3 linked regions of the Homo sapiens genome follow. The protein of the gene in region 1 interacts with the protein of each later gene in a pairwise test. Each region holds a gene or a part of one and is shown in the gene's direction. Other genes may lie near its edges.

The links. The genes of interacting proteins can lie anywhere in the genome.
Region 2: the proteins of TMEM65 (region 1) and SLC18A1 interact in binary tests that used the Homo sapiens proteins (3 or more experiments, as listed by UniProt).
Region 3: the proteins of TMEM65 (region 1) and IGSF9 interact in binary tests that used the Homo sapiens proteins (3 or more experiments, as listed by UniProt).

The regions. Positions count from the first base shown.
Region 1 is NC_000008.11:124,320,693-124,327,715, reverse strand, and holds part of TMEM65 (transmembrane protein 65), read left to right. Parts: intron 1-294; coding exon 295-362; intron 363-4,340; coding exon 4,341-4,395; intron 4,396-5,568; coding exon 5,569-5,611; intron 5,612-7,023. UniProt on the Homo sapiens protein: Essential for maintaining proper cardiac intercalated disk (ICD) structure and function as well as cardiac conduction velocity in the heart.
Region 2 is NC_000008.11:20,145,124-20,152,146, reverse strand, and holds part of SLC18A1 (chromaffin granule amine transporter), read left to right. Parts: intron 1-1,402; coding exon 1,403-1,481; intron 1,482-2,419; coding exon 2,420-2,471; intron 2,472-4,076; coding exon 4,077-4,140; intron 4,141-4,424; coding exon 4,425-4,544; intron 4,545-4,755; coding exon 4,756-4,889; intron 4,890-6,270; coding exon 6,271-6,384; 3' UTR 6,385-7,023.
Region 3 is NC_000001.11:159,942,601-159,949,915, reverse strand, and holds the start of IGSF9 (protein turtle homolog A isoform a precursor), read left to right. Parts: upstream 1-4,302; 5' UTR 4,303-4,343; intron 4,344-6,287; 5' UTR 6,288-6,461; coding exon 6,462-6,519; intron 6,520-6,764; coding exon 6,765-6,953; intron 6,954-7,315. UniProt on the Homo sapiens protein: Functions in dendrite outgrowth and synapse maturation.

The DNA.
Region 1 (7,023 bases):
GTATATATTTGTGTGTGTGTGTGTGTGTGTGTGTGTGTGTGTGTTACCAGTAAGAAAACACAAAAGTCTAACACAGTTATTTTTACATGTTTTATACTTTTTCTGGTTTGTTTTGTTTTTTCCCAATATAGTTTCTACTTATAGCAGTAGCAGCATCTATTGGCTCTGGAAAATGAGAATCAAATTCTAGAGATTATCAAGTCTGTTTAGGATACTTTGATCATATCATCTGTTTTTGTCATTCTAAGTTATAGAAATCTTAAAATATATTTTTCTGTTTTTGATGTTTTTCAGTATTCATCCACAATGCGATACCTTTCATAGGGTTTGGCTTTTTGGATAATGCAATTATGATTGTTGCTGTAAGTTCTTTCTCTCACTGCTTCTATTTTGAGTTCATAAATTAATGTGGTCTACATTTTCCTAATAATTTTTCTATTGTGATTATAAAGTTTTAATATCATAATGAACAAGGATATTTTTTACTATATCTCAGACTATAGCTCAATTTTAATTAAGCTATATTTAATATTTATTAATCATTAAGACTTTAGGTAAAGCATTTAGACAAATAGACTTTTGGTAGAGCATTCAGACAGAACATTAAAGGCCTATATTGTCCTATTCTAATTTCAACATTCTTAATAAAGAAAAATAATATGTAAAATGTTCTGATGTTCTTTAATGGTGTTGGCAATTATCACATATATAGGTAATTATTTGATTTAGTTCCTTGTTCAATTTTCCAATGTGAAAATGTTTTAAAGCATGTTTTGATACATAGTCTAGCCTTCAGTCTAGCCATTGTTTAAAGTTTCAATTCAATTAAGTGACTGTATCTCCCTTTTGCCTTGTTCCATTGTAGTGTTAAAAAAAATTCCCCTTTGTTGTGGTATTTTAATGTAAGGGTGCTCCTTAAACCTGTTTAAGCTCAGAGATGGCTGACTTACCTTTCTTACTACTATATAAGGCCTGCTAATGGATACCAATATTAGGTTCATATTCTAAAGTCAGAAGTAGATCCATAATTAAAATGCAAGTCTTCAAAAACTGCCCAGTGCTCTGTTTTCAAGAACATACCAAGTGTTAGCTACAGCTTATGAATTTATCATAATGGGGTTTTCATTACAATTAGATTTGATTTACATTAATTGTTTAAATAATCTAGCCAACTCAGATTTTAGTAGTTTCCGAGAAGGCAGTGTGGTTCTAAATAGTTGAATAAGTTTCTCACATTCACAGATACATAAATTGGCCAGTTTTATTCTTATATACATATTATGAAAATGCCATAATCAGTCAAAAAACTATTCACTCCTCTTATTTTGTCCAAGTAAAATAGATTGATCACAGTCCAGTTATTATGGCAATTATCAACTTTCAATACATATTTTTAGAATACCTTATGTGAAGTCATTCTTTTCAGATATTAGCATTAGATTGAAGGTAATAGATCTTCAGTACATTTAGTGGGAGGAGAAAAAAATATCATATACTTTGAATACCAGTTTATGAGTTCCCAGGTGGGGTCTTTATTTAAACTTGTTTGAGAAAATCGAAGTGCTTCACAACTAGAAACTTTTCTCAGTTAGGACTTAGAGAGTTTGTTGTCAGTTTCACTGACTCTAACTTTTAAAAACATTTTGTAAATGATAGCTAAAGTGTAGGAGACTACTGAAAAAGTGGAATGACCTTAGGATTGTTGAATGTGAGGAAAATATACATGAGAGATGCAGGTTTTCTTTTTGGTGTTTTGGAGATCACGTGTACTACAAATGGACATAAATAGAAGATTTGGTTTCAAAGTAGGAATTTTAAAAGTAATTTACATTGTATAGATTATAAAATTTATGTAAACATGGTTTATTCAAGAATGGTTTTGTTTGCTATATAGTCTAGCCTTATGTCCAGATTGATGGGGATCAGCTACCAAACCAAACACCCACATTCTAGAGTCAAATTATTGTAGTAATTTGTAGTTCACTATTTGGTGTTCCCCAGGTCTGTGCCTCATTGTTAGTATAACTAAGAGTGCACTATTTTTCCAGGCCTGAGATGGCTGACTCCAAATTAGTAATACCTGTTATTCTGTTTCTATTGAAATCCAGTTTCAGGGGCTTATGGGCCATTTTGTTTATTTTTTCTTATTTTTTTCCCCAGCACATCCAGAACACAGAAAATCAGTTTTTATTTAAATAATACTGAAATAAATGTTTAAGCCACTGACTTCAAGTTAAGAGTAGTAGGTGTGGCAAAAATATTATCCTGTGATAGCTGCAAACTCATTCAGAGACAATAAAATTTTCCAGTGAGGCTTCGTTATATAGAATGCTGAGACTAAAACATATAAATAATGTAACTGTAGAATCTATGAAAGGGGAAATAAGTGATTATTATCTTAAGAATGTTTTTCATCTTTTAATTAAAAAAATACTGATCAACCCCTCTCATTGTGGGACAGCTATGACTGTTTTAAGATAGTAAGTTGAGGAGATAGTTGATTCTTCTTTTTTTTTATACCATAGACATTTGATGTTTTCCTCCTTCCTGTTAGGTGTACTTTCCCACCCTAGTTGTAGTCGTAAAAACAAATTCAAACAAAAACAAAGAGGTGTGTAACCTCTTGTAATAGATTTGGCCTTTATATTGGTTGGTGTTCATATTAAGCCTTTTGTTTCATAGTTTAAAAAATATTTTTATATTATTGGATTGCTTTTTATAACTTATATTTTAGGGTTAGTTTTGGGTTACTTTACTTACAGTTTAATTGGATAGAATTTATTAGAATTCTAGAGTAGATTAATTGTATTAAGGATAATGAACCAGGTATAACTTTAAGACAACTATTAGTATTCGGTTTATTTATAATTTCTACCTCACCTATTAACACAAAATTTGATGTAACTATGGGACACAGTAAAGAAGTGGATAGTCCATTGCCCCCAAACCATCTTTGACTTTATATGGGGCTTTTCCTGCTGTTAGAAGGACCTTCAGCTGTGTTACATTCAACCAAATGATTAAGCACTTAACTATTTTTTAAATGTATGTATTGCAAGAGATTCTTCTTTGGCCACTGCCAGCGATTCATTGCTGTTAAAGATGCCATATTTATTAGACTGTTGTTATCAGGTGCCTCTCTTCTATATTGGTGCTCCAGTTTTTTTGCATTCAGATATGATGATACATATGTTTATTCTTTTTCTCTGCCTGTTTTTACCTTTTCTTCCTCTTTATTTCTTCTTCAGAAATCTGTTTCTTGGGGTATATTTACAACCTTGTCATTTGAACTTTGTGCATCAGGACAAAAGACTTTTGAACTTCAGTGCATCAGACTGTTGGGTCCATATTCGACAAGAATTATATCTTAAAGTGATGCAGCCAAAAGCTCTAGGGGAAAGAAACTTGAGGAAACCTCTTTTCAGTTTTGTAAATAATTGATGAGTAATGCATTATTTCTACGTAAAATACAGGGCGTTTTTTTCCCTCCACAAATATCATTGAGATTTGAAGCATTTTTTAGAAATGTTCAAGCATCAGTATTCAAGAGAACTCTTGAAAATTAAGTCTTCTAATGGCAGCATTGCTCAGGGATTAGAATTGAATTAGCACAATAGATCCTAGGATTTCTTCTTTATTCTGTTAGAATAGTTTAATTGTCTTCACTTCAGTTCCTCCTCTTTAAAATGAAAGTAAAATATGAGCCCCTCTTTTCTTCAGAGGAATGATGATATACATATAGAAAGTCTTAAACTCTGTCATTAAATTCAGTGGCGATACGATGGGGCTTTGTTTTGAGTGTAGATCTATTGTACTAAATGCCGTTGCTGCTTATAAATTGAATGTATAGTTTCACTACTTAATGGTTCAAGAGCTAAGTGTTATAAGGATAATTTTATAAACCCCAATTTCCCTAGAAACTGGTTTAGTCTCCTTTTAATCTTTTGATAGAGTAAATAACAATAGTATAGATGTATAGTTCAGAATTTAAAATCAATGTGAGTCGGTCTTGTTTTCAAAGAGCTTTAAAGCATTTTTCTCTGTGGTAGAAAAATAGAAATTCTAGATTTTTAATGATGAACTATATTTCTACATGTGTTGCTAATTTTATTTTTAGAAGCCTAATTTGAATGAATAAAATGTTATTGATGTTATTTCTGTATGAATGCATATATTTAATAATTTAATGAATTACTATATTATATGTGCATATATGATGTATGTAATTTTGCAGCACTAACATGTTGATTTAACTTGTATCTGTTTTTATTAATGCTTTGCTATTCTTTTATAGTCACTTCAGCTTTAATTTTTAAGATTAATTTTTTATCATATTTCAGGGAACCCATATTGAAATGTCTATTGGAATTATTTTGGGAATTTCAACTATGGCAGGTATTTAACAGTAGTAAATGTTATTATTTCATTGTACACTTATAAAACATTTCAGTAGATTAAGTTTAGAGGAGGGTAATTTATTTGAATGAGTTTACTCATTGAGATATCTGTTAATTTTCTTCATCCTATTCTTCTGATTCTTAGTTTTGTACATGTAGCACTTTTTCTGAAAATTTTAGGTACTTTATATTATTAGTTATTGGATAACAATACTCTGCTATATTGATTTCGTTAAGACAAGATTTTCTGGCAATTCAGTGTTACCCCTAAACATTTCTACCCTTGGTCTCTTTTATTTATTTATTTATTTATTTATTTATTTAGAGACGGGGTCTCACTCTGTCACCCAGGCTGCAGTTCAGTGGTGCAATCTCAGCTCACTGCAACCTCCACCTCCAGGTTCAAGGGATTCTCCTATCTCAGCCTCATGAGTAGCTGGGACTACTGGCGCCTGCCATCATTCCTGGCTAATTTTTGTATTTTTAGTAGAGACGGGGTTTCACCATGTTGGCCAGGATGGTCTTGAATGCCTGACCTCGTGATCTGCCCGCCTCGGCCTCCCAAAGTGCTAGGATTACAGATGTGAGCCACCACGCCCAGCCTATTATTTATTTTTTATTTATTTATTTTTGAGTTGGGTAGAATTTTTTTTTTCTTGAGTTGGGTAGAAAAATCAAAGAAGGAAATACAGGATTAAACATCTGTCTTCTCTGTCCCATTTACCACTCTATTCTTCACAGAGGTAAAATTTGGGAAGAGTTCTATGTTGTATTTATTGTAGAAAGCATTAGGTAAATGAGTTAATGAAAGAAACATATTTTTCTCCTTGACTTTCTTGAATTTCATAGCTGTACATGCAACTTTACCAATTCCTTTAAATATTATATGAAAGATACTACAAAATATTCTACAATTAATATTGAAACCAAAATGGAAATTGGCTGCCATAACAAAAAAACCTACTACTTAATGGAGGTAGAATAGCATAATTTCAAAATTGTGTTCTATTTCAAAACCTTGAGAGTAAGAGCTGTCCAATGAGTTACTTTGGATATGGTTGCTGTTGTTTGAGAAATATGAGAACTCTTCCAAGATCAGTGCTTTATTGATTACATAGTGATATAATTATTATTCTTTTATGTAACAATTATTTATTTTTCAAATTTTTAGCTGCTGCTTTGGGAAATCTTGTGTCAGATCTAGCTGGACTTGGGTAGGTTCATTCACTTATTCATTTGTATATTCTGTACTTGCTGTCTTTCTGTTCCCCACTCTTCTTTAATTGAGAAGCATAACAAAAGAATATTTCATTTTTCTTTGTTTTCTAGAATTAAAATTTCAAATTTACTTTTTCTAAACTAATAGTACTAAATCTTTGGTATCCATCAAATATAGATGCCTGGGTGATATCCCAGTTATACATTATTAGTGTCTCTGGAGAGGGAGCCCTGGCAGTTGTGTTTAGTAATTTTCATGAGTGGTTCTGATGTATGCAAAAGTTTATTCTAAATTTACCATAATGTAAGCAAAATGGAATTTGTGTTTACTGAAGTATTTATATGTATTTTATAGACATCTCCAAGGGTAAGACAGGAGTAAAAGGAAGAACCTCTCTCATTATTCCACCTCACCCTACTCCCAGAAAACCCAAAGAGAAGGGATATGGCTCGAATTTGAGGATACTGACTAGACATGTTTTCTAGAGGGGGGAACTTTCAAAGGAAATAATGGCCAAAGCATATATGGGTTTGGCTGTTTTTTGCTCTCTTTACTTTATGTGGCAGGAATAATGAAACAAACTAAGGACATCTATTTAGAAAAGGCCAGCTTTCTCTCTCTCTTTACATTCTTGTTCCAAGTAGCAGATGGCCTGAGTTGCTTCCTGAGCTTGGGGAAGCCTGGGGGAGTATAAATTAGACTAAGTGGACATTATTATGATAAATATGCTCTGTCTTGCTCTGTCTTTGATTTTGTCTCTTCTTTCCTTGACTCATTTGAGTGTTACAATTTCAGATTTGAATTTTTTCTTAGAAGTTTACTTAGCCCTATAATCTAGGCAAAGCAGCTTTTTAAGTGATCTAACCTTAACCTTTTATATTAGACTTCTGCACTGGAGTTTGGGGCCAAAGCCACAGTTAAAAACAAAGTTTCTTTGTTTTAGGACCATGGCAAGAATTTTATATTCTTCGAATTCCTGGCATAAATGTATCATGATATCATCTCTTAAACATTCTATTCCCAGTTTCCAACATTAAAGTAAATAATGAGAATATTACAGTCATTGTATAGCTTTCTGATATATTTAATAGAACCAAATGATCTAAGAGATTTTAAAGCCATTTAGCTATATATTGCATCATAAAACAATTGTTTTTGTTTAGAGATGAAGATTTTTCTGGAAGTCTTTGTATTTAAAAACTATTTCTCTTCTCTCTTTTGGGGGGTATCATTCAATAACAAATACCACATTTTAGGCATTCTCAGATGCATTTTAACGTATCTGATATCAGGATCCATCTTATTGTTGGTAGTATACATAGTTTAATTAGCAATATTTTTTCTTTCTTACAGTTCATAAAGTAAGGATGTATCCAATAAATGATGGCAACTTAGAATTGATAAAAT
Region 2 (7,023 bases), about 100 Mb from region 1:
TTAGGTGCTTTTTATTTTCTGCTTGAAGTGCTCTCTTTTGGTTATTAAGGTCTCAGTTTGAATGTCACTTCCCCAAAGAAGCCTTCCCCAACCCTGAAATCCCAGATAGCCCTTCTGAGTTGCTCTGCTATATCACCACATTAAATTTCATGCACATAACTCAACACTTTTCAAAATTATCTTTTTTGTGTATTTGTTTACTTGTTCATTGTATGTCTCCCTCCCCTGGAGTGTAAGCTAGCTGAGGGCTAGAATTTTGTTTGTCTTATTCACCGCTGTATTCCCAGCCCCCAGAATACCTGACACATGGTCAAAGTTTGTTAAAATGAATGAATGAATGAATGAATGAATGGAAGAGACTCAGACAGGTTAAGTAAATTGTCCAAAGTCACAGAGCTAACAAGTCATCAAGCCATGGTTTGAATGCAAAATTTGGAGCTTTGTGTGGCTCCAAAGCCCATGTTTCCTGAACACTTCCCTCTACTGTCACAAAAAGCCATGTGTTCAGGACTTCAATTTACAAAATACTTTTGCATGCATTACCTAATTTGCTCCACATTGTAACCCGGTATGATATAATCATAGCTTTGCTTTTTCCAGATGTGGAAACCAAGGCTCAGAAAGGTTTAGTAATTAATCCAAGATCCCTCTCAGAGAAATAGAAGGGCTGGTAAGTAGCAAGGCAGGAATTCACTTCCCAGGAATTATGTATGGGTATGTGGCACCCAACCACACCACCTCTGAAGCTCACATTCTCACGCTGATAATCAAGGGTATTTTATACATGAGAACGGCTCATCAGGGCCATTCATTAGGAATCTAAGTGGGGAGCTGGAAGCACATTAAATGTACTGAGGCTAGGCCAGGTGTGGGGGCTCACATCTGTAATCCCAGCACTTTGGGAGGCCAAGGCAGGCAGGATTTCATGACCAGCCTGGGCAACATGACGAGACTCCATCTCTACAAAACAAACAAACAAACAAACAAACAAAAAAAAAACAAAAAAAAACAACTAGGTGTGGTGGTGTTCATCTGTAATCCCAGCCACTTGGGAGGCTGAGCTGGGAGGATCACTTGATCCCAGGAGGTCGAGGCTGCAGTGGGCTGAGATTGTACCACTGCACTCCAGCCTGGGTGACAGAGTGAGGCCCTGTCTCAAAAAAAGAAAGAAAACAAAAAGAAAAGTACTGAGGCTAAACAAAGCCTTGCTCCTGAAGAAAGGAGAGGTGTGGGGGTCCTATGGCAACTACTGTGGGTTTGCACAAAGGTCCCCAGATCATAAAACAAAGTGGTTTGGGGATCTTGGAAGGTTACAGGGGTGGACTTCAGTGTCTTGTACGAGACAAGGCATTTTAGAGTAAATTGGACATGTCCTAAGGTAAGGATCTGTGTCCTTCCACAGGTCTAGCTTTCTTGCCTGCCAGTGTGTCCTACCTCATTGGCACCAACCTCTTTGGTGTGTTGGCCAACAAGATGGGTCGGTATGTAGCCTCGGGATCTGGGACGAACAGTAGAAATGTAAGATGGAAGAGCGCCCGTTCCTGATCTTGGAATGATGAACAGCTTCCATACGGTTGAAAGTTTAGGATGAGTACACACCGATAAAAACTTCCCACTGGGAGGATGGGCAGTGAGTGAGTGGTGAGGGTGGTATGGAGAATGGATTGTCCTGAGCTCTGAGCTGATTGTTATAGAAGAGGCAGTGGATACATGAGGGGCACCCCTTACTTTCCATCCATTTGCTGTCCAGTTGAGGAGATAAAATAACCACAACAGAGAACAGCTATGAAAAATGCAGTACTTTGGGAAAGTAGTTTTCAAATTATGTTCTGTGGAATCCTAAGGAGTTCTATAGAGGCACCCCAGAGGCCACTGAGGAGGAAGGGTTGGGGGCCAAGAGCTATGAGTCTCCATTCTGTCCCTTCACTACAATAAGGACAGCTTTAATTTTATCTTTGGAGTTTAGCATCAAGATTTTAGAAGCACTGCCATAGGACATCAGAGAAGGAAAGAAGTTTGGTACTTTCTGTGTTTTTTGAGACAGACCTCAAGGACCAAATAAAATAGGACAGGTAGGAGGCAGTCTGAGCTGGGCAACAGCATGAGTTAAGTTTGAGGGCTACTTCTAAGGAACAAGTGCCTCCTGAGTCAGCTGATTCCTCCTGTAAGGGAAGGAAGAGTGTGTCCCACGGCACCTCCTCTGCCTTTCTATAGAAAAAGGGATGGAGCCAGGGGAGACAAGGAAAGGGCAGGGAGAGAGCTCATTTGGGTACAAACTGGTCATGTAGGGATGCTGTCCTCAGGTCCTAAGGGGTTGCTGGGATTAGGGCTGGTGGGACAGGTCAGCATGGCGGTGATGGGGTACAGGTGGAGGGGAGCTCTCCCCTAGTGGTGTTTGATGATGGCTTTTTTCTTCCAGGTGGCTGTGTTCCCTAATCGGGATGCTGGTAGTAGGTACCAGCTTGCTCTGTGTAAGTATAAGAAGACCTGGGGGAGGGGAAGGAGAGAGAGAGCGAGAGACAGACAGACAGAGAGAGAGAGAGAGAGAGAGAGAGAGGGAGAGAGAGAGAGAGAAAGACACAGACATTTAAAGACTAATTTCCTTTAAGATGAGCAGAGATGGCTTGGCAAGGACTGTCAGAAAGACTGTTTCTGAATAGGCAGGAATTTAGCACGGGGGAAGAGGCCACCAGCTGCAGTGGCTTTCCTTTGAGGGGAAGTGGGAAAGGAGAGGAAGAGGGCTGTAGGGCAGCTGGAGCCGGAGGTCTGAGGCTGTACATGTGGGCATATGAAGTGATACATGTTGGTATCCATTTCTGGGGATGGCAAAATGGTGCGTTTTATGACTTCATTTACTCATCCCACCCTGACAGAGCCTCATAAATCCCCAGGGAACCATCATCTATGTCCCAGTCTCTGGCACCAGAGGCTTGATAGAAGAAGAAAGAAAGAAGGACTTTTCCATTTCCAAGAATCCCCCTCAAGTTCTCAAAGCCTTCATTTCCTCCTCTCCCCAGTGGGGATGAGAAACACACAAACCTCCTAGGCCTGAGGGAGAGAAGAACAGGGCTACAAGGCACTGTAAACTGTGCTCAAGACCAGCTGGAGGTCCTGAGCAGGAGCATGGGATCCGGGTTCCATGGCAGGTTTTGCCACTTTCTATGCATGTGACTTTGAGCAGGTTACTTCATCTCCGTGTGCTCAGCATCCTCATCTATGTAGAGAGGGTTCTGATGGTGTCCACAGGGTTGTCAAGGTAATCCAAATAAACCACAGTGTCTGGCACATGGTGAGCCCATAGTGAATCTCAGCCAATACTATTGATAATTTATAAACATTTCTTGAGGCATGAACCCTAAAAATTGTTATCAGCCAGCAGCATCTAAACGGTATGCTAAACCCTTAAGGGGTGAGTGTCCTGGGGTAGCAGGTTTGAATGGCAGGTACCCAGAGAGGGAGGTAAGGAACCTGAAAAAGAGGGAAGAAGGGGTTTTTGTTGGGGGATTGGGAGGGCAATGGGAATGAGTCTCACAAGCTTCCTGACAGGGGACCCAAGCCACACCACCTGCCCCCTCTAGCTTACAGCTAACTGGTTGTTGGGGCCTCTTCTCTATCTTCTTTTTCCAACAGCTACCAAGTTAGAAGTCTAAATGAAACCTTTCAGTGATGTCCATAATGGAAAACAGAGGCAACTTTATTCCATGAAGAATGAGACCAGGAGTGTATGTTTAGGTGAAGAGGGGTAGAGGAAGGGGAGAAAGTATCCATGGAACAGAGGAAGACCCTCGTTAGAGCATAATGGAGCCAAGTCTGAGGTCCAAACTTGATCTTGCCACTCATTAGATCTGTAACTCTGGATAGAGCAATAAATAAACACAACAGCGCTGGTCAAGTTTTCATATCCTTAAAATGGAGGTATAGATTCTTTTCCATGAGAAAGTCTGAGAGTGCAGGAGGATGATGTATGTGGCCAATAGTGCACTCTGAATAAATGCATTTCATGTGAAAACTCTTTGAACCTTGCTCCCACCTGACCCATCTGGAGTCCTGATGACTCTTCCTCCTTCCCCATGCAGGTTCCTCTGGCTCACAATATTTTTGGTCTCATTGGCCCCAATGCAGGGCTTGGCCTTGCCATAGGTAAGAAGTGCCCTCAAAGAAAACAATAAGCCCCTGCATGTTGGCTTTGGGTCTGATGCCTTTCCTCCCCCTTTTCTCATCAGAGGAGGTAGGTGCAGAGGCAGAAGGATCAGGAGGGCAGCTGGCAGGGTTGTGGAGAGATGAGCTCGTAATTCCCACCTGGAACAGGTGTTAGTCCGAGGCAGAAGACAGCAGACAAAGCAAATGGACTAAATGGAGGAGGAGAGGCGGGGTGGTACTAACTGTGGGTGGGGCTGACTGTGTCCTGTTTGCTCTGGCCACAGGCATGGTGGATTCTTCTATGATGCCCATCATGGGGCACCTGGTGGATCTACGCCACACCTCGGTGTATGGGAGTGTCTACGCCATCGCTGATGTGGCTTTTTGCATGGGCTTTGCTATAGGTATGTTGGCAGGACCTGGTGCCCCACTTTCCCCTGTCTACTCTTTACCAGCTGGAAGTGCAGCCAGGAAGCTATCCTCCTAGGGTTCTGGAGATCTTTGACGCTGAGACATCCTCTGGGTCACCCACTGCCCCTAGCATAGTGTCCTACGTGGAGGATGCTCCATATGGAGGCTCCATAGACACTTATGACTTTGATGTATCCCTCCCAGGTCCATCCACCGGTGGTGCCATTGTAAAGGCCATCGGTTTTCCCTGGCTCATGGTCATCACTGGGGTCATCAACATCGTCTATGCTCCACTCTGCTACTACCTGCGGAGCCCCCCGGCAAAGGAAGAGAAGCTTGTAAGGAGCACCGACTGTTAAAAGAGAAATTCACTTCTGTTTCTTTCCATCATCTCTCTCATTCCCTTTCATCCTGGGCTGTTATTTCCTCCCTCTATTGCTCTGTTGATACTCTCTCTGCTTTGCCATGTTTCCCAATCCCCTTTCATCTTCATATTTCTTTTGTGCACTTCCTTAATTTCCCTTCTCTAAGTAACCACTTCCCTCTTTCTGGGGCTATCAGGAAGGGTCTTCAGTAGAGAAGGGAAATGGGGGCAGAGGACCATCAAAGACATCCTGTAGTTACTGTTCTTAGCTTGCTAGTTACTAGCAAGATGTGAGTTACCAAGTTAACTCCCTCATAAGTGGGCAGAATTCCATTGGCACATCCGTTCATCCACTCATTCACTCTAGTGCAACATTATCCTTACCAGGTCACTTTTTTTTTTTTTTTTTGATGGAGTTTCACTCTTGTTGCCCAGGGTGGAGTGTAATAGTGTGATCTCGGCTCACCACAACCTCTGCCTCCCGGGTTCAAGAGATTCTCCTGCCTTGGCATCCCAAGTAGCTGGGATTACAGGCATGTACCACCATGTCTGGCTAATTTTTTGTATTTTTAGTAGAGATGGGGTTTATCCATGTTGGTCAGCAGGTCACGTTTTTAAAAGTACAAAAACCCCAGGGAAGAGATCCATACCATAGGATTTTCTTTAATAAAGCACTTTCCTCTTACTGCAGCACAAACATCCTGAGGGCCTGATGGGTTTGGGATACCGACAGAGGCTGCTCAAGGGAACAAAAGAAGACATGAAGGTGTGATAGGGAGTGGTGGTGATTCCATTTGGCTTCCTGCTGTAACTTTCACTACCACTGTTAAATTCAGTTAAAAGCAAATGAGATACTTGTCCTGACAAGGGTTGATATACTAGGTACCCCGGGAGGCTGGTGCATGTACATGCAGAGGGTCCTATGCATGTTTCTTGAGTACTTAGCAATGCCAGCCTTGGAAGAACTAGTGGGAGGACGGAATGAGGAGATTGGTAAAAAAAAGATGTGCGGTGGTTGGCCGGGCGCGGTGGCTCACGCCTGTAATCCCAGCACTTTAGGAGGCTGAGGCGGGCGCATCACGAGGTCAGGAGATCGAGACCATTCTGGCTAACATGGTGAAACCCCGTCTCTGCTAAAAATACAAAAAATTAGCCTGGCGTGGTGATGGGCGCCTGTAGTTCCAGCTACTCTGGAGGCTGAGGCAGGAGAACGGCATGAACCCGGGAGGCGGAGCTTGCAGTGAGCCGAGATTGCGCCACTGCACTCCAGCCTGGGCAACAGAGCGAGACTCCGTCTCAAAAAAAAAAAAATGATAATAATGTGCAGTGGCTTCTCTTCTTGCCTCTCTCTGCAGGCTATTCTGAGTCAGGACTGCCCCATGGAGACCCGGATGTATGCAACCCAGAAGCCCACGAAGGAATTTCCTCTGGGGGAGGACAGTGATGAGGAGCCTGACCATGAGGAGTAGCAGCAGAAGGTGCTCCTTGAATTCATGATGCCTCAGTGACCACCTCTTTCCCTGGGACCAGATCACCATGGCTGAGCCCACGGCTCAGTGGGCTTCACATACCTCTGCCTGGGAATCTTCTTTCCTCCCCTCCCATGGACACTGTCCCTGATACTCTTCTCACCTGTGTAACTTGTAGCTCTTCCTCTATGCCTTGGTGCCGCAGTGGCCCATCTTTTATGGGAAGACAGAGTGATGCACCTTCCCGCTGCTGTGAGGTTGATTAAACTTGAGCTGTGACGGGTTCTGCAAGGGGTGACTCATTGCATAGAGGTGGTAGTGAGTAATGTGCCCCTGAAACCAGTGGGGTGACTGACAAGCCTCTTTAATCTGTTGCCTGATTTTCTCTGGCATAGTCCCAACAGATCGGAAGAGTGTTACCCTCTTTTCCTCAACGTGTTCTTTCCCGGGTTTTCCCAGCCGAGTTGAGAAAATGTTCTCAGCATTGTCTTGCTGCCAAATGCCAGCTTGAAGAGTTTTGTTTTGTTTTTTTTCATTTATTTTTTTTTTTAATAAAGTGAGTGATTTTTCTGTGGCTAAATCTAGAGCTGCTAAAAGGGCTTTACCCTCAGTGAAAAGTGTCTTCTATTTTCATTATCT
Region 3 (7,315 bases), on another chromosome or scaffold:
CCTCTACTTTCTGAGGGCCTGAACCCTTGTCCCTCTGGAAGGCAGTCCCTTCTTGAGGCTGGTTCTCTGGGCTTCCCTTAGGCCCTGAGCAGTCTTGCTTCCAAAAAAGGCCAGCAGCCCCCAATCCCTTTGATTCCTTTTATATCTTTCCTAGGAGGCACCACTGCAGGGATGGGGACTGACTGGAAAGGCCACCTTGAGTCCATCTTGCACATAAAGAGGCAGCTCATTTCTCATGTTATTGCAGGATTGAATTCATAGAAAGTAAACAAAAGGATGAATAAATAAAGGAATGAATGTATGATAGGCCCAGGGATTTCCCTGGAAGTTGGCAAAGTTCCTTCTTCTTACAGCCGATCTCTGAGCAGAGAAGGGTTGAGGCCTCAAAAGAGGCCGAGCTTCTGGAAGAGGAAGGATGAGATCTTAAAGAAAGTTGAATATAAACTCAGAGAGGCACAAGCCGCTACCTCTGCAATATGCCAGGAACTTGGCAAGCACTGGGGAGGCAGAAGAGACACCTCTGCCTTCAAGGAATGTTTTGTGGAGTGTGTAAAGATACAATAACAAGGTAGGAAAAGGGCTGGGGTGAAGGTGAGGGCGTGGTGGGAAAAGTCACGGAATGTGTCCTGAAGGGAACAGATCAACAGAAATTTGACCTGTGGCCAGCAGTGAGTCTGGAAAGGAGAAAAGGGCATTCTATCGAGACAGAAGCTAAGTGCTAAGACACTGGTATGTGAAAGAGCACAGTAGTTCTAAGGCCTGCAAAGTCATGCACACTGCGATAAAGGGATAAGTGAGAAACCAGGCTGGAAAAGTAAGCAGGGCCTTTCTGAAGCAGGAATTCAAAGACAAACAGGACAATATCCACACCCTTGTGGGGCTAAGTGTTTCATTGGGATAGAAGATAGGCACACAAAAAGTTAAATGACAATATATGAGAAACCGCACTTCTTTACGGATCTGGTAATAAGACTGCTGCTTACAGGCATGTGGTCAACAGAGTCCCTGGATGACAATCTTTTCTTTTCTTTTTTAACTCAGATATAACTTAATATATGCCTGATTAACAACATCCCTATTATCGATTATTAAAGCCACCCTTTCTATTCTAGAATATGGGATAGTTATGTGGTGCTTAATTGGTACAAGCAATGTTAACACATCAAATGTGGTCACTACTAAAAGCCCATGTGTTCCACCTTTCAGGGTTCATTTGATATCAAGTAATTCTCTGCTTATCTATAGACAATGAGAAACTTTGCTGATTAGGAACACCTGTGCTTAACGATGCCAAGCAGACATCTCTGAGGTCACACCATCTTCTTTGTGCAGGGCTATGGAGCAGCTCAGGTCCTTTCTTCCCAAGGCCTGCTGAAATATTAGGTATACACCAGGAAGACAGAACCAATAAGATAGATAGATACAGATATAGAAATATGAGATGGGATTTATTAGGGGAATTGGCTTACATGATGGTGGAGGCCAAGTCCTACAACATGCACAAAGAAGGCCCTGGGATGGCAAAAGTGTGGCTCAGTCCAACTCCAAAAGCCTCACAACCAGGGAGGCCAATGGTATAACTCACAGTCCCAAGTCTGGAGAGCCTGGAGTTTTGATGTTCAAAGGCAAGAGGAGGAGAATACCCCAGCTCTGAGAGACAGAGAGAGAGACAGAGAGAGAAAAGAAGAAGAAGGAGAAGGAGGAGGAGGAGGAGGAGGAGGAGGAGGAAAAGCAGCAGCAGAGGAGGAGGAGGAGAAGGAGGAGGAGGAGGAAAGAGGAAAGAAGAAAGCAGGAGAAGGAGAAGAAGGAGGAAGAAGAGGAGGAGGAGGAGGAGGGGGAGAGAGAGAATATTTTCTGATATCCTTGTCAGCAATTTGAAAATATGGGGGCTGCCTGATACTTAGGTTAGGTGGAATCCTCGTTGGTTGAATAAGCTTTCCCAGAGAGTAATGACTATGAATCAAGGACAACCTAGAGGAAAGTCTTTTGTTTTGAACCTCAGGGACTATTTTTTAAATCAGCTTTCACTCCTGGCACAGTGAGGGAACAAGTTATAGGGCTAGGTTCCTTTTCTTAACAAAAAATCTCCAATATACATATAAATCAGACAAAAAATGGCAATAACAATAAAAGTCACAAAATAAGTTTCCAGAAAAAAAAGGCCATATCATAAACTTTTAAAAATTGAAAACCATTTTAAATGTCATTTAACAGAAAGTTATTTTAATGTCTAAATGAGATTAGTTTATCCTCAAGAAACCACTGGAGACAGCAGTTTAGATCAAAGGTGTGGCCAATTCTAACAGCGGGGAGGGAGATCCTTCCCAATGATTGGTAAAGATCCAAAGACTAAAAAACACTTGGCTCGGCCGGGGGCAGTGGCTCACACCTGTAATCCCAGCATTTTGGGAGGCCGAGGTGGGTGGATCATGAGGTCAGGAGTTCAAGACCAGCCTGGTCAAGATGGTGAAACCCCATCTCTACTAAAAATACAAAAATTAGCCAGGCATGGTGGTGGCCGCCTGTAATCACAGCTGCTTGGGAGGCTGAAGCAGGAGAATCGCTTGAACCCGGGAGGTGGAGGTTGCAGTGAGCCGAGATTGCACCACTGCACTCCAGCCTGGGCGATAGAGTGAGACTCTGTCAAAACAAAAAAACAAACAAACAAAAAACCCGCTTCACTCTTTTACCATTTCTTCTAGCCTTGCTTCCATGCTGCATTCATTAACATGTTTCCATTATAGTCTTATCAATAGATCAGGGTATTATGTTGAAATGCATTGTTGAAAAGCTGCTACTTTGGGACTATTTGCAGGAGGGATGGTGGGAGAGACTGGCCCACTGCTCCTGCCTCTTCCCTTCCATCTCAGTCACCCAAAAGCACTAAAACCTTTACACCTGGAAGAACTGTCCAGCAGGCAGAGCTTACTAAGGATGGAATGGGTACAACAGTAGTGCTGAGCTTCCTGGCCCAGGATGTAATGAGATAGGGGCTTGGATGACTACATGGAGAAATGATGTGCCAGGGATTCTGGGGCCAAGTAGTGCTTAGGCCCATCCTGGAGGTTCTCTCATGATGCTGCAGCAGTGATTCTGTGAGTCTGATGCCTGGTGCACTCAGTTTGAGTCTTAGTACTTCGGATTGGGATGAGATCAGCACGTTGCTTTCATGGAAGGCTTCCAAGGGAGCCAACTGAATGGGAAGGACCTGGACAGGCAATGTTGCTTAAGCCGACCCAGCATCCCTACAGCATCACCAGGCTGAGGAGGTGGAATCTCTGAGGGGCAAGATATGCAAGATATCTTTGTGTCTGAGGGCGAAGCCTCCAAGGGAGTAGGTTTGATGAAGTTTGGGTTGGGTCTCAATCCAGCTCTGCCATAACCTAGTTGGGAAAGCTTGGGCCAAGTTACTTCATCTCCCTGAGCCTCAGTTTTCTCATTAGTCAAAGGGAGCTCTACTTACTTCGCAGGGTTTCTGTGAAGGTTACACAAGAGTTATAAAGCATCTAGTCCAGGGTCTGGCACCCTGCATGGGTCCAGTAAGTGATCTTGTATTTCATTCCTCCCTTTCAATCTCCCGTGTCAGGATATCTGTCGTTTCTCCCCTCTGGGCCTGTTTCTCTGGGTCGTTGGTGCCAGAGCTGCCTTGGGAGCTGACTTGGCAACCCCACGCTCAGAGCACAGCCTTCCTCAGCTGCACACGGTGGGAGGCGCCTGGGCAAGATTTGGGAGCTCGCCAATGCAGACAGGTATTTCCAGTCCTGCTAGAGAAGCAATGGGTGGAGGTAGAAATGGGGATGGGGGAGGAGATCGGATGAGCCCGGGACCTGGGTGGATCCCCTGGGAGGAGGGCGGGGAGTCATGCTCCCCGCCTGGTTCTCCTACCCCCAGGCTCAGATTTCAACCCTCGCTGCCGCCTCTGTGGCGCGCCCGTTCGGGGAGCGGAGAGGGTCGCCCGTAGGTTCCGAAAGAAGGACGGCGTACCAGTAGCCTGGCAAGGGGCCAGCTCCCGCAGCCCTGGAGCGCGAGCCGGACCCTGCTGCCCCTCTTGCTGGCGGCGGGAAGCGGCCCACCGGCCTTTCCACGCTTGGCTGTGCAGAGGTCCACGAGGGGGCGACCTGAGCCCACGTGCAGCCGAGCTCTTCCCTCCTGAAACTACAACTCCCAGGCCGCTCAGGGGTCCCGCCCGCCTCGCCGTGCCTCTGGCGGCTCCAATTGGCCGCCGCGGGAGGGGGATTGGCGGTCTCCAGGGCGACGGGAGGCGCTCGGGGCATCCGAGGCGGGGAGGCGGGTCCGCCCCCTATTGTGTAGCGGCGAGAGTGGAGCCGAGCGGTGCGGAGCAGGTGAGGGAGGGGGCGTACTGGAGGTATAGAAGTGGTGGTGCTGGTAGTGCGGAGTTATGGGGGACAGGAGAAAGCGGGGAGTTCTAGAGAGAAGTGGAATTCGTTGCAGGAGTAGAACTAGGGGAGTTCTGGGGAGTGAAGTGGAATTCTTGGCGGGTGGGTGGGAGTTCCCGGAGAACTGCAGGAGTTCTGGAGGCAATGTGGGGGAGTTCTTGGTGGGTTCTAAGAGAAAGGAGGAGTTCCAGGGGACCAGAGAATGCGAGGGAGAAAGGAATTGTTGGGGGTGGGGTATCAGAATTGTATTGTGGGCTGATGCAGGAGAATCCCAGGGAGGGGAATTATCGGGAGGAGAGGATGGGGAGAAGTGGCTGGGGGGTGGGGAGACCAGAAGGGAGTTCTTTATAGTGCAGGAGACCTGCTGCAATTGGAGATCAGGTGCGAGAAGCTGGAATTGTGGGGGGATTGTGCGTAGTAGCGATAACTGGGAAGGGAGTAATGGGAGGACGAGGGAGTGGTGTGTGGGGAGACTAGAAGGGTGAGGAAATAGTGGAGGCCGGGGGAGTTGGAAAGATATTAAGAGACTGGGAGGAATTCTAGGGATGCCTAGTTACTCAGAGTCTCGGAAAACAACCAGGAGAGAACTAGGGGGTTCCTATATACTTGGAAAAAGGTTTTTCAGGGAAGTGTGGGAGAGCTGCCTGGAGGCAGTGGGAAACAGGGGGCTTGGTTGCTAGTGAATTGCCAGAAGTTAGACATACAGGATCATTAAGTAGAGGCAAGGATCAGACTCTGTGGAGGATGTTTTATAGTCTGTCCTGAACTTTGCGGCCAAGAGTGGGTTGGAGGACTCAGAGCAGAGTCCACTTGGCAGTGCCAGGCCCTGGCATGGACCCTCTGGCTCTCTGAGACTGCCCTAGGATCTGTGGGGCTGTCAGAAGCTCCTACCCTCCATGCCCCAGGGTTAATTTTGTACACTTCAGGGACTCACAGGCTTTTTTTTGGACCATGCCTCTGGGGTTGGGGAAGAAAGAGCTTGACAAACCCTGGCACCCCGAAGATATTGGAGGGGAGTGAGTGGGAGGGATTTGGGTGAGGTCCTTGGGTGGTGGTGCCTGGCAGGGGGAGGGCTGCTTGGCAGTATCGTGAGGAAGTGGCGCCAGCTGCCAGCCCCGGGACCTGTCCAGACCTGGAGGATGCTGCCTGGATCCCCCATACTGGCAGGTGGGGGAGGCAGCTCCTCCTCTCCCAAGTGCCTGACTCACTCACTGCCAAAGCAGTGTAGGGAGACTGAATGGAGAAAGGCCTCGGGTCCTCAGCTTCCAGAGTTTTTCATAGAGGCTGGGGAAATGGGACAAGGGATTGTATCGGGGTGTCCTGGGGACCACTTTCTGAGGCTTAAGCGCCCTGGATTTGCCCTTGACTGGCTCTCTGCCCCTGAGCAGATATCCTCAGGGCCCTTATTTGTCACAGAGGGGTGAAGGCGACAGCACTGGTTCCATCTTGCTGCTATACCTTGTGAGCATCAAGAGTAAGGAAAGAAGCGAGAGCAGCCTAGGCCATGAGAGTCTTGATCTACCATACTTCCTTCAAAAATATTTTTCCAAGCATATGAGGAACCCCAGTTCTCTTCTGGCTTAGTTTTTCAAGACCCTCAGAATGCAGGCATCCCCAGAATCCTTCCACATTTCCTAAGACCTTCCCAACTCTCCCAGCCTCCCCCATTTCCTCACCTTTCTAGTATCTGCATTCAGCACTCACCATTCTCCCAGTACTCCTACCCCTGCTCTTACTCCCCAGGGCTTCAAGATCCCCCCCTTCCCCCTACCCCTCACTTAACTACACTCCTCCCTCCTTTCTCTTCCCAGTGCCTTTCTCTAATGGTGGGGTTTCTTCTGGGCTCCAGTATTGGCCAACTCTGCATGTTGCCTTGTACTTTTCATTTAGATCTGGTGGTTCTCCGGAGAGCAGCTTCCTCGGGTGTTACATGAGCCAAGCCCTCACTGTACAGAAGAGTGAGAGCTGAAACCTGTTCCCTGAGCTGATCAGAAGGACATCCCTTGGCCCCTCCATCTGGGCTCCTGTGGATAGGAGGGGCTGGGTGAGCAGGCCAGCTGGGCTATGGTGTGGTGCCTCGGCCTGGCCGTCCTCAGCCTGGTCATCAGCCAGGGGGCTGACGGTAAGCTGAGCTCTTGGGCTCAAGAATGCCCTGTTAGCCTTGGGGTGGGTATGGGGGTGTTCCTCAAGGGTTCCTCTTTGAGCATGTGAGGGCAGGGGAGGAATAGGGCTGGTTCTGGAGAAGCTGAACTGGGGGTTTCTCCAGTCACCCAAAGTCCTAAGGTGCCTACAGAGATACTGATGGCACTCCCCCTCCCAGCACTGACCCTAGCCCCCCGTTGTGCCCTCATGCCACCCATCATGCAGGTCGAGGGAAGCCTGAGGTGGTATCGGTGGTGGGCCGGGCTGGGGAGAGTGTGGTGCTGGGCTGTGACCTGCTGCCCCCGGCCGGCCGGCCCCCCCTGCATGTCATCGAGTGGCTGCGCTTTGGATTCCTGCTTCCCATCTTCATCCAGTTCGGCCTCTACTCTCCCCGAATTGACCCTGATTACGTGGGTAAGAGTTCTCCTCAGGTGGGAGGTAGGGAGGTATCAGCAAGAAAGGTGGGCTGGGTAGAGTCGCACAAGGCCTCCTATGAACGGCTTTGTCCCTGCTCTGATCTCATCTCCAGCTCTGCTGCCTTAACTCTGCTTAATAAGCATGGCTGTGCTCCCAAGCAGTGTTAATTCATTGAAAGATTCATTCATTTACACACACACACACACACACACACACTCACACTCTTATAGCTGTGCTATTTAGGACTCCACGTGGTCTGTTCCAAAGGAGATCCTGCAGCCCTATTCCAAATATCCATTCTAATTCTGTAACTGCTTTTTCTACATCTCATCATGAAACCTCCCAGACTTCATCCTGAT